2 separate regions of the Homo sapiens genome follow, and region 2 is linked to region 1. The links come from fine-mapping of genetic effects on gene expression. A gene starts in region 1. The other region holds a variant in brackets. All regions are shown on one strand. Distances are between the middles of the regions.

What was found. PIP is the estimated chance that this variant, and not a neighbour inherited with it, causes the effect.
Region 2: its variant is the best candidate, but not a certain one, in a credible set for the expression of SLC3A1 in cerebellum (GTEx, PIP 0.52).

What each region holds. Positions count from the first base shown.
Region 1 is chr2:44,273,265-44,278,765 of GRCh38, forward strand. SLC3A1 (solute carrier family 3 member 1) reads left to right here and starts at 2,216. Exons shown (of 10, transcript NM_000341.4): 1 at 2,216-2,701. The coding sequence starts at 2,272.
Region 2 is chr2:44,351,855-44,357,108 of GRCh38, forward strand. The region is part of intron 1 of PREPL (prolyl endopeptidase like); the gene reads right to left. Among named protein-coding and RNA genes, the nearest start is that of PREPL, 7.0 kb to the right of the region's middle. The variant C/T (reference allele first, on the strand shown) is at 3,280.

The sequences.
Region 1 (5,501 bases):
GGACTGTATGTGCTCCTGATGAAAGGGACATCATAAATCATTACATTCCTTTTTGTTGTTGTTGAGACAGAATCTTGCTCTGTCACCCAGGCTGGAGTGCAGTGGCGTGATCTCAGCTCACTGCAACCTCTGTCTCCTCGGCTCATCTCAGCTCACTGCAACCTCTGCCTCCTGGGCTCAAGTGATCCTCCCACATCAGCCTGCCTCCTGAGTAATTGGGACTACATGGGTGCACCACCATGTTCAGCTAATTTTAAATTTCTTTTGTAGAGATGAGGTGTTACTATATTGTCCAGGCTGGTCTCCAACTCCTGGGCTTAAGCTATCTTCCCACTTTCTCTATTTAACCATGTATAAGAAAAATAATTTCCCCCCAAAGTCATTTTTCTTATACCTGGCTAAATAGAGAAAGCTTTAAGCTTTAAAAAAAGTTGTGGTAAAACATCTGTAACATTTCAGTGGCATTACGTATGTTTATACTGTTATGCAACCATCACCACTATCATCTCAGGAATACTTTTCATCATCCCAAACTGAAATTCTCTGCCCAATGAACAATAACTCCCCATTATTCCCTTCCTCCAACCTCCAGTAACCACGTTTCTATTTTCTGTTCCTATGAATCCTACTACTCAAGATACCTCATCTAAGTGAAATCACACTTGCCCTTTTGGGTCTGGCTTATTGCACTTAGCATAATGTCCTCCAGGTTCATCTATGTTGCAGCATGTGTCAGAATTTCAGTCCTTTATTTATGTATTGGAGACAGTCTCACTCCATCACCCAAGCTGGAGTGCAGTGGTGCTATCTCAGCTCATTGCAACTTCTGCCTCCTGGGTTCAAGCGATTCTCCTGCCTCAGCCTCCCAAGTAGCTGGAATTACAGCATATGTCCCCATGCCCAGCTATTTTTTTTTTTTTTTTTTTTGAGATGGAGTTTCACTCTTGTTGCCCAGGCTGGACCGCAATGGCGTGATCTCCATTCACCGCAACCTCCGCCTTCCAGGTTCAACCGATTCTCCTGCCTCAGCCTCCCAAGTAGCTGGGACTACAGGCATGCGCCACCACACCTGGCTAATTTTGTATTTTTAGTAGAGACGGGGTTTCTCCATGTTGGTCAGGCTGGTCTTGAACTCCCAACCTCAGGTGATTCACTGGCCTCGGCCTCCTAAAGTATTGAGATTACAGGCGTGAGCCACCGCGCCTGGCCTAATTTTTGTATTTTTAATAGAGATGGGTTTTGCCATGTTGGCCAGGCTGGTCTCCAATTCCTGACCTCAAGTGATCCACCCGCCTTGTCCTCCCAAAGTGTTGGGATTACAGGCGTGATCCACCATGCCCAGCCTTCATTCCTTTTCAAAGCTGAATAATATTTCACTATATGTATAACCACATTGTTTATCTATCCATCTGATGATAGCTACCTGGGTTGTTTCCAATTTTTAATTTTTTAATTTATTTTTAGTTTCATTTTATTTTTATTTTCTTTCTTATTTATTTATTTTATTTTTTGAGACAGAGTCTCCCTCTGTCACCCAGGGTGGAGTGCCATGGCTCGATGTCAGCTCACTGCAACCTCTGCCTCCTGGGTTCAAGTGATTCTCCTGCCTCAGCCTCCTGAGTAGCTGGGATTACAGGCATGCACCACCACGCCCGGCTAATTTTTGTATTTTTAGTAGAGACGGGGTTTCACCATGTTGGCCAGGCTGGTCTTAAACTCTTGACCTCGGGTGACCTGCCTGCCTCAGCCTCCCAAACTGCTGGGATTACAGGTGTGAGCCAAGATGCCCAGTGGAGATTTTTTTTTTTTTTGTGGGATGGATTCTCGCTCTTGTCGCCCAGGCTGGAGTGCAGTGGTACGATCTCGGCTCACTGCAACGTCTGTCTTCCGGGGTCAAACGATTCTCCTGCCTCAGCCTCCCGAGCAGCTGGGATTACAGGTGCACACCACCACGCCTGGCTAATTTTTATACCTTTAGTAGAGACGGGGTTTGGCCATGTTGGCCAGGCTAGTCTCAAACTCCTGCCCTTGGTGATCTGCCCGCCTCGGCCTCCCAAAGTGCTGGGATTACAGGCATGAACCACCGCGCCAGTCCCGAGATTTTTTTTTTAAACCTCTGTACTTTTACCCTTTCTTCCTTGGCTGGACTTTGTCCAGCTAGGTTTATTTATAAACCACACAAAGTTCATTAACAAGACCAAGCATTCAGCAAGCCACTCTTCCACCTCCCTTACTGCAGGAAGGCACTCCGAAGACATAAGTCGGTGAGACATGGCTGAAGATAAAAGCAAGAGAGACTCCATCGAGATGAGTATGAAGGGATGCCAGACAAACAACGGGTTTGTCCATAATGAAGACATTCTGGAGCAGACCCCGGATCCAGGAAGCTCAACAGACAACCTGAAGCACAGCACCAGGGGCATCCTTGGCTCCCAGGAGCCCGACTTCAAGGGCGTCCAGCCCTATGCGGGGATGCCCAAGGAGGTGCTGTTCCAGTTCTCTGGCCAGGCCCGCTACCGCATACCTCGGGAGATCCTCTTCTGGCTCACAGTGGCTTCTGTGCTGGTGCTCATCGCGGCCACCATAGCCATCATTGCCCTCTCTCCAAAGTGCCTAGACTGGTGGCAGGAGGGGCCCATGTACCAGATCTACCCAAGGTCTTTCAAGGACAGTAACAAGGATGGGAACGGAGATCTGAAAGGTACATGCCCAGAGATCATTTAGGGTGGGTGCCAGGATGAGATTGGTTTATGGTTCTTTTGTTCTTCAGAACCAAATTATGCCTGGGTTGTTCAGTAAGCACATTCCATTATGACTGGTCATGCCAAGTTGCTCCTTGTTTATGATATTCTTAGAAAATCACTCAGCAGAACCCAGCAGTTATTTTACTAGCTGAAGGGCTATTTGCTGAAGGCCTTTGAGCCAAACGAGTTGTTTAATTTATTGCCCACTAAGTACATACAGTTGTTCAGTCATCAATTCTAACTTCTTAGAGCAGCCTTCCTTCTAAAATCTATGTCCTGTTTCTGGGGACTTTATAGTTGAATATGTCAGGGTGGCAGTTGGGAATTGCTTTCCCAGTATACGAAGCAGCTAGTTTGGCTGTGTGGCTGGGAGTGTATTAGTGAATAAAGCATAAATAATATTTTTTTAAAAATCAAGTGATATCTGTAAAAAGTATAGGCTGAGTCTTAAAGTTTAAATTCTAAAAAAGGAAGGGAAGTAGAAAAGGGGTAGCAGTATGCATTCGTCATTACTTGAATTAAGGATTGTTTAAAACCATGTCCGTATTAGTATAAAACAAGTAAAGAATTAACCAGGGGTAGTGGCGCATGACTGTAGTTGCAGCTACTTGGGAGGCTGAGGTGGGAGGATCGCTTGAGCCCAGGAGCTCTCAGCCAGCCAGCTTAGGCAACATAGGGAGACCCCGTCTCCAAAAAGAAAAAAAAAAAAGTGAAAAATTATTTTTTAAAAGCTAAGTTAATTTCTTGGTGGGTTATGTGTAAAACATCCTTACAATATATTGCTCAAACCAGAACATACTTCAGAGTAAAATTATGCCAGATGGCAGGCATACACTGGGAACTTCTGAGCAAATTGGTTGGTATGGTCACTCTACTTCAAGGCAACAATAGGAAACAAATAAGGAAACTAACAAACTAATGTTTTACAATGATAATTGGTTTGAAGAAAACAAAACAGGATGATATGAATGTGGAAAGTAGGAATGGGCTTAATGTATCTTTAAAATGCTACAAATGAATTCTTGAAACCTGCAGCTTTCTTTAATCACTAGTAGAAGGCTTTTCTTTTTCACGCTCCTATCATTCTCTCTCTTCTTTTTTTTTTTTTTTTTTTTTGTGATGGAGTTTCACTCTTGTTGCCCAGGCTGGAGTGCAATGGCATAATCTCAGCTCACTGCAACCTCCGTCACCTGGGTTCAAGCAATTCTCTCGGCTCAGCGTTCCGAGTAGCAGGGATTACAGGCATGCACCATCATGCCTGGCTAATTTTGTATTTTTAATAGAGACGAGGGTTCTCCATGTTGGTCAGGCTAGTCTCGAACTCCTGACCTCAGGTGATTTGCCCCCCCTTGGCCTCCCAAAACTCTGGGATTACAGGCATGAGCCACCGCATCCGGCTGTATCATTCTCGTTTTAAAAATCATCCTGCATTGTCACTCATTGAAGAAGAGTGTATCTGTCCTTCATGGTGCAGCTCAAACCCATTGCCTTCATTACTCTTTCTTTAGCCTCCCTAATCAGACCATGGGCTCCCCACCCCAGATCTTCGGCTTTGGATGTGTTTCTAGCATCCTTTAATCCTGCCTTGAGTGACTCCCTTTCCCCTGACTCATGACCTATGACCTGCTGCCTTTTGCACATTGAGTGCTTAGGAAAAGCAATGCTCTGACTGCATAGACCTAAAGCCCTAAATCCAGAGATATGTTTACCACTTCCTGGCCCTGCCTTCTTAATAATCTCCTTCTGGATAGGTCCAACATTCCTGTAAACATGGTGGTTTCTAATCAGCTCTGATGTTTGTCATTTCCAATACCTGTTCTTGGAGGAATGTTTTACTTCCTGCAATCCATAGGCATTTGTCTTTGAGGTTGAAGGGATTTCATTGTTGTTATTATGAAGATCCCATTCCAGCTTTGAGTCTGGTTTTGGTGATTGCCCTCTCTCCTTCTAAAATGTGGGGTGGGATCCCTTGTTTACTTTCTCCAGCCACTTTGTTTTCATCCTCATGTTCCTTTGTGCCTCATCATAAGATATATTTTGTTGCTGTGCTGGCTTAGATCAAAACCCTCTTGCTGCCTGTTGATACCGTGTGAGATCTTGCAGCTACCCATATGGGGGAACTGGGGTACAGAGACAGAAATAAGCAGCCTGTCAGGCCAGGCGTGGTGGCTCACGCCTGTAATCCCAGCACTTTGGGAGGCCGAGGCAGGTGGATCACGAGGTCAGGAGATTGAGACCATCCTGGCTAACACGGTGAAACCCCGTCTCTACTAAAAAAATACAAAAAAAATCAGCTGGGCGTGGTGGCGGGTGCCTGTATTCCCAGCTATTTGGGTGGCTGAGGCAGGAGAATGGCGTGAACCCAGGAGGCGGAGGTTGCAGTGAGCTAAGATCGCACCACTGCACTCCAGCCTGGGCGACAGAGCGAGACTCCATCTCAAAAATAAATAAATAAATAAATAAATAAAATAAAATAAAATAAATAAGCAGTGTGTTATAGGGGAAAAGCCCAGATCCCAGGTGTCGAATGACTCTGTGCTTTGGAATTAGTGACCTTCAGCCTGCGGTGTGGCCTCTGACAGTCTAATTCTAGGAAGTCACATCAGGATTACACAGAAAGTTACTGGAGATTGAATTCTAGACTCAAGTTGCTGAATATGCATTTGGGACTCTGAACTAGAAGGAGAAAACACATTATCTGCTCATTATCCTACAAAGTTCTAAATACAAAGTTTCATTTCCACATGTCTTCTCAGC
Region 2 (5,254 bases), 78 kb after region 1:
ACTCCACTCAAAACCCTCCAGTGGTTTCCCATCTTGCTCAAGAGGAAAAGCAAAAATTCTTACAATGGTCTACAAAGTCCTAAAGAATCTTGTCCCATTACATTGCTGACCTAATCTACTGCTACACGCCAAGCCCACTTATTCCAGTTAATCCATACTTGATGTTTCTTGAACATATCAAGCTTGCTCCCATATCAGTTTCTTAGAACTTGGGCCCTATGCCCAAATACCTCCTTAAAGCTATTGCTCAAATGTCATCTTCTAAGTTAGGCCTTTCCTAACCATTTTACTAAAATAACACCCCTCCCTATCCCCACACTGCCTATTCACATCTTCCCCGTCTTTTTTTTCTTTTCTTCTTCGCCATAACTATCGCTTTTGACCCACTTTGTATTTCATTCATGTAATTCTTTTTATTTTTTTGAGAGATGAGGACTTGCTTGTGTCCACCTCAGCTGGAGTGCAGTGGCATGATCTCGGCTCATTGCAACCTCTGCCTCCTGGGCTCAAGCAATTGATCCTTGATCTCAGCTCTCAAGTAGCTGAGACTACAGGCGCCACCATGCCCAGCTAATTTTTGCATTGTTTGTAGAGACAGGGTTTTGCCATGTTGCCCAGGCTGTTCTTGAACTTCTGGGCTCAAGCAATGAGCCCACCTCAGCCTCCCAAAGTATATTACAGGCATGACCCATTGCACCTAGCCTTGTTCATGTAATTCTTTATTCTTTCTCTTTTCCTTTCTCAAGTAGGATGGTAAGCTTCACAAAGGCAGGGATTTTTGTTTATTTTGTTCAGTGTTATATCTCCAGTGCCTAGAATGGTGCATAGCAGGTGTTCAACAAATATTTGCTGAGTTGAATAAAATTCAGACAGCATAAAACATAAAATGAAAAAAACATATTTAACAAAAGATATCACAAAGTGAAAAAAATAATAATAGAACAAATATGGAGAAGATATCTACAGCACATATAAAAGACAAAGGACACGTAAAGAAATCTTATGAATCAGTAAGAAAAGGACAGACAATTAAAAGAAGGTCAAAAGACAAGAATAGGCATTCAAGAAGAAAAACTATAGGATCAATAAGTGTAAGAAAAGATGCTCACTGGCCATGAGTGGCAGCTCATGCCTGTAATCCCAGCACTTTGGGAAGCTGAGACAGGAGGATTGCTTGAGCCCAAGAGCTTCAGACCAGCCTGGGCAACATAGCAAGACTCTGTCTCTATTTAAAAAAGTTTTGGATTTTGGAGCATTTCAGATTTTGTATTAGGGATGGTCTACCTGTACTACAAGATATTAAAAAAGAAAGGTACTGTGAATGAGGCTAACTTAGGTCTACTTCTGACTCTACTAGTTTTCTTACTTAACTTTAGGCTCTGTGGCTTTAGTTTCTTCATTTGTTTAGAAAGAATACACACGCTTCCTGATTTTAAGACTTATTACAGGCCAGGCGCAGTGGCTCATGCCTGTAATCCCAGCACTTTGGGAGGCCAAGTTGGGCAGATCACCCTGAGGTCAGGAGTTTGAGACCAGCCTGGCCAACATGGTGAAACCCTGTCTCTACTAAAAATAAAAAAAAAATTAGCTGGGCATGGTGGCAGGCACCTGTAATCCCAGCTACTCGGGGGGCCTTGGCAGGAGAATTGTTTGAATCTGGGAGGCAGAGGTTGCAGTGAGCTGAGATGGCACCACTGCACTCCAACCTGGGCGACAGAGCGAGACTCCATCTCAAAAAATAAATAAATAAATAAATAAAACTTATTACAAAGCTATAGTAATTAAATGTGTAGTACTGGCATAACGACAGACATATACAAAAATGAGATGAAAGTGAGAGTCAAGAATAAACCATTGAATTTATGGTCAGTTGATTTTCAGAAAGGACACCAAGACAATTCAATGGAAAAAGAACACTCTTTTCAACAAATGTTGCTCAGACAATGGATATCCACAAGCAAAATAATAAAGTTGTACCCCAATCCCTTGCACTATAAACAAAATGAACTCAAAATGGGTCATAGGGCTGGGCATGGTGGGTCACACATGTAATGCCAGCACTCTGGGAGGCTGAGGCAGGAGGATTACTTGAGCTTAGGAGTTTGAGACAAGCCCGCACAACAAAGTGAGACCCTGTCTCCACACACACAAAAAATCAAAAAATTAGCTGGGCATAGTTGTGGGCCCAGCTACTTGCAAGGTAAGGCAGGAAGACAGCACGAGCCCAGGAGGTTGAGGCTGCAGTAAGCCATGTTTGTGCCTCTGCACTCCAGCCTGAGCAACAGAGTGAGGCCCTCTCTCAACAACAACAACAACAAAAAAAGTATCAAAGACCTAAAGAAAGAGCTCAGATGGGATGATTTCTGGGGTATGTTTTCTAGCAATAAAATTTATGGTTATATGAAAAGAAAAAATGCATTAATTTAACTATTAATTCATTCTATAAACACGTTGCTTATCTACAATGTGGCAGTCGTTATGCTATGTGCTGGCAAGATGTGTATTATAAAATTCTTGTCTTTAAGGACCTCCCAATATAATGGGGAGACAGGAAAAGTTTAAAATGATGTAGTAATAGCAGAGAGGTAAATATAGTGATTTGACTCCTATGGCTTCAACTACTATCTACATGTAACAACTCTCCCCAAATTCCAGACTCATATATCCAACTGCTACTGAAATCTCCACTTTACTAGTGAGTTATATTTATCCTTTCCTCCTCTCTTTTTTTTTTTTGAGATGGAGCCTCGCTCCCATCACACCAGGCTGGAGTGCAGTGGCACGATCTCAGATCACTGCAATCTCCACCTCCCGGGTTCAAGTGATTCTCCTTCCTCAGCGTCCCGAGTAGCTGGGATTACAGGCATGCGCCACCAGGCCCGGCTAAAATTTTTGGATTTTCAGTAGCAATGGGGTTCTGCCATGTTGGTCAGGCTGGTCTTGAACTTCTGACCTCAGGCAATCCACCCGCCTCAGCCTCCCAAAGTGCTAGGATTATAGGCGTGAGGCGCCACGCCCGGCCTTCTTCACCCTTAAGATCTGAATATCAGTAAGATTACATACATGACTGTGAAATAAGTCCATCTGAAACATAAAGATAAACCAGGTACGTTTTAGAATTTTGAGATTTTGGAATGTTAACTGGGTACCTTATCTCAGTTTACAGGGGAACAACACTCTAATCAAATGCAGTAACATTTTAGAGCTAAACATCTACTAATTGGGATAAAGATCATAATAGCTTTGTGTCAGTTTAGGTCAGGTTTTGCCCATTCTCAA[C/T]AGCCTCCAATCAGTTAAAAAAAATCATTTGTTTTCTAACAGGCTTTTGGATTTTAGAATCCAAAGAGATGAGGAATTATCACTCAAGCTCTCTAGTCTTCCATTAAGATGTCTCAAATAAAATGTAATCAGGGCCAGCTGCGGTGGCTCATGCCTGTAATCCCAGCACTTTGAGAGGGCAAGGCAGGTGGATTGCTTGAGGCTGGGCTTCCAGACCAGCCTAGCCAACATGGCGAAACCCTGTCTCTACTTAAAATATAAAAAAATTAGCTGGGTGTGGTGGCACATGCCTGTAATTCCAGTTACTCAGGAGGCTAAGGCACGAGAATCACTTGAGCCTGGGAGGTGGAGGTTGCAGTGAGCAGAGACTGTGCCACTGCACTACAGACTGGGTGACAGAGTGAGACACTGTCTCAAAAAAAAGCAATCACCCTGTAAAGACTCTCATCTTCACTCATCTGAGTTACTGACAAGGCTTCCTACTTCCAATTTATTCTCTATTCTGTCAGAGTGATTCTTCTAAAATGCAAATCTGATTGCGCCTACATTTTTCAATAACATTCTATTGCTTAAAAGGATGTAGCTCAAACTTTTTGCAAGATATACAAAACTACATATTATATATATATATATATATATATATATACACACACACACACATATGAATATGAGACTATTGCAGGAGCTGCTAACCTGTATTGTAGAAATAGGCAAATGACATGTTTAACCAAAGGATTTAGTCTTCTCTCTTTAATTATACAATTTCATTTTGTATCTTGTTCAAATTATCACTATTAAAGATTTTGGGAATTATTTTTTAGGCAGAGCAGAGCAGGATGATGTGGAAGATAAAGAAATGTGATATCTGGATGGATGGATGCTAGTCTTTGAATATCACTGGCTGGCTTGTAAGTATAATAGAGTAAGTTCATCTTGCCATCTGGCTAATGTAAAATGGAAAGCAGAGGTACTTGCCAATAAGAACTGCAGAACTGAATGAATTCAATAAGGTTTAGATCGGCAACACTTGATCATCAAACATTTCCAATTTCTAAATTCAGGTCCAGTGTCAGTCAAGTTGTGAGTTCCAGAATTACCTGATGTGAACTTCAAAAAACAGATCTGGGGCCGGGCATGGTGGCTCACTCCTGTAATCCCAGCACTTTGGGAGGCCGAGGCAGGTGGATCACCTGAAGTCAGGAGTTCGAGACCAGCCTGACCAACGTGGTGAAACCCTGTCTCTACTAAAAAATACAAAAAAATTTAGCTGGGCATGGTGGTGGACGCCTGTAATCCCAGCTACTTGGCAGCTGAGGCAGGAGAATTGCCTGAATCTGGGAGGTGGAGGTTGCAGTGAGCCAAGATCATGCCATTGCACTCCGGCCTGGGCAACAAAGCAAGACTCCGTCTCAAACAAACAAACAAACAAACAAACAACAGATGTGTAGGCCTCAACCATAGAGATTTTCATTACGCAGATGTGGGGTGAGATCCAGGAATCCGCATTTCTAAAAAGCTCTCCAGGATTTCTGATATACAGTTAGACTGCAGAAGTTGATACTGAAGAGTCCCCAAACTTTTAGGCAGTAATTTGTTGCTAAGGTAACAAGAGGTATAGAATCATGAAATTTTAGCACCTCTAAGACTTTCTACAGAATGACAAGTTGAAACTCCCTATTTTTTTTTTTTTGAGACAGGGTATCCTTCTGTCACCCAGGCTGAAGATCTCACTGTGCCTCAACCTCACTGCAGCCTCGACCTCCCAGGCTGAATCAATCATCCCACATCAGCCTTCCAAGCAGCTGGGATTACAGGCGTGCGCCACCATACCCAGCTAATTTTTAGTCTTTTTGGTAGAGTTGGGGTTTTGCCATGTTGCCAAGGCTGGTCTCGAATTCCTGAGCTCGGACAATCTGCTCGCCTTGGCCTCCCAATGTTCTGGGATTACTGGCGTGAGCCAGTATGCCTGATCAGA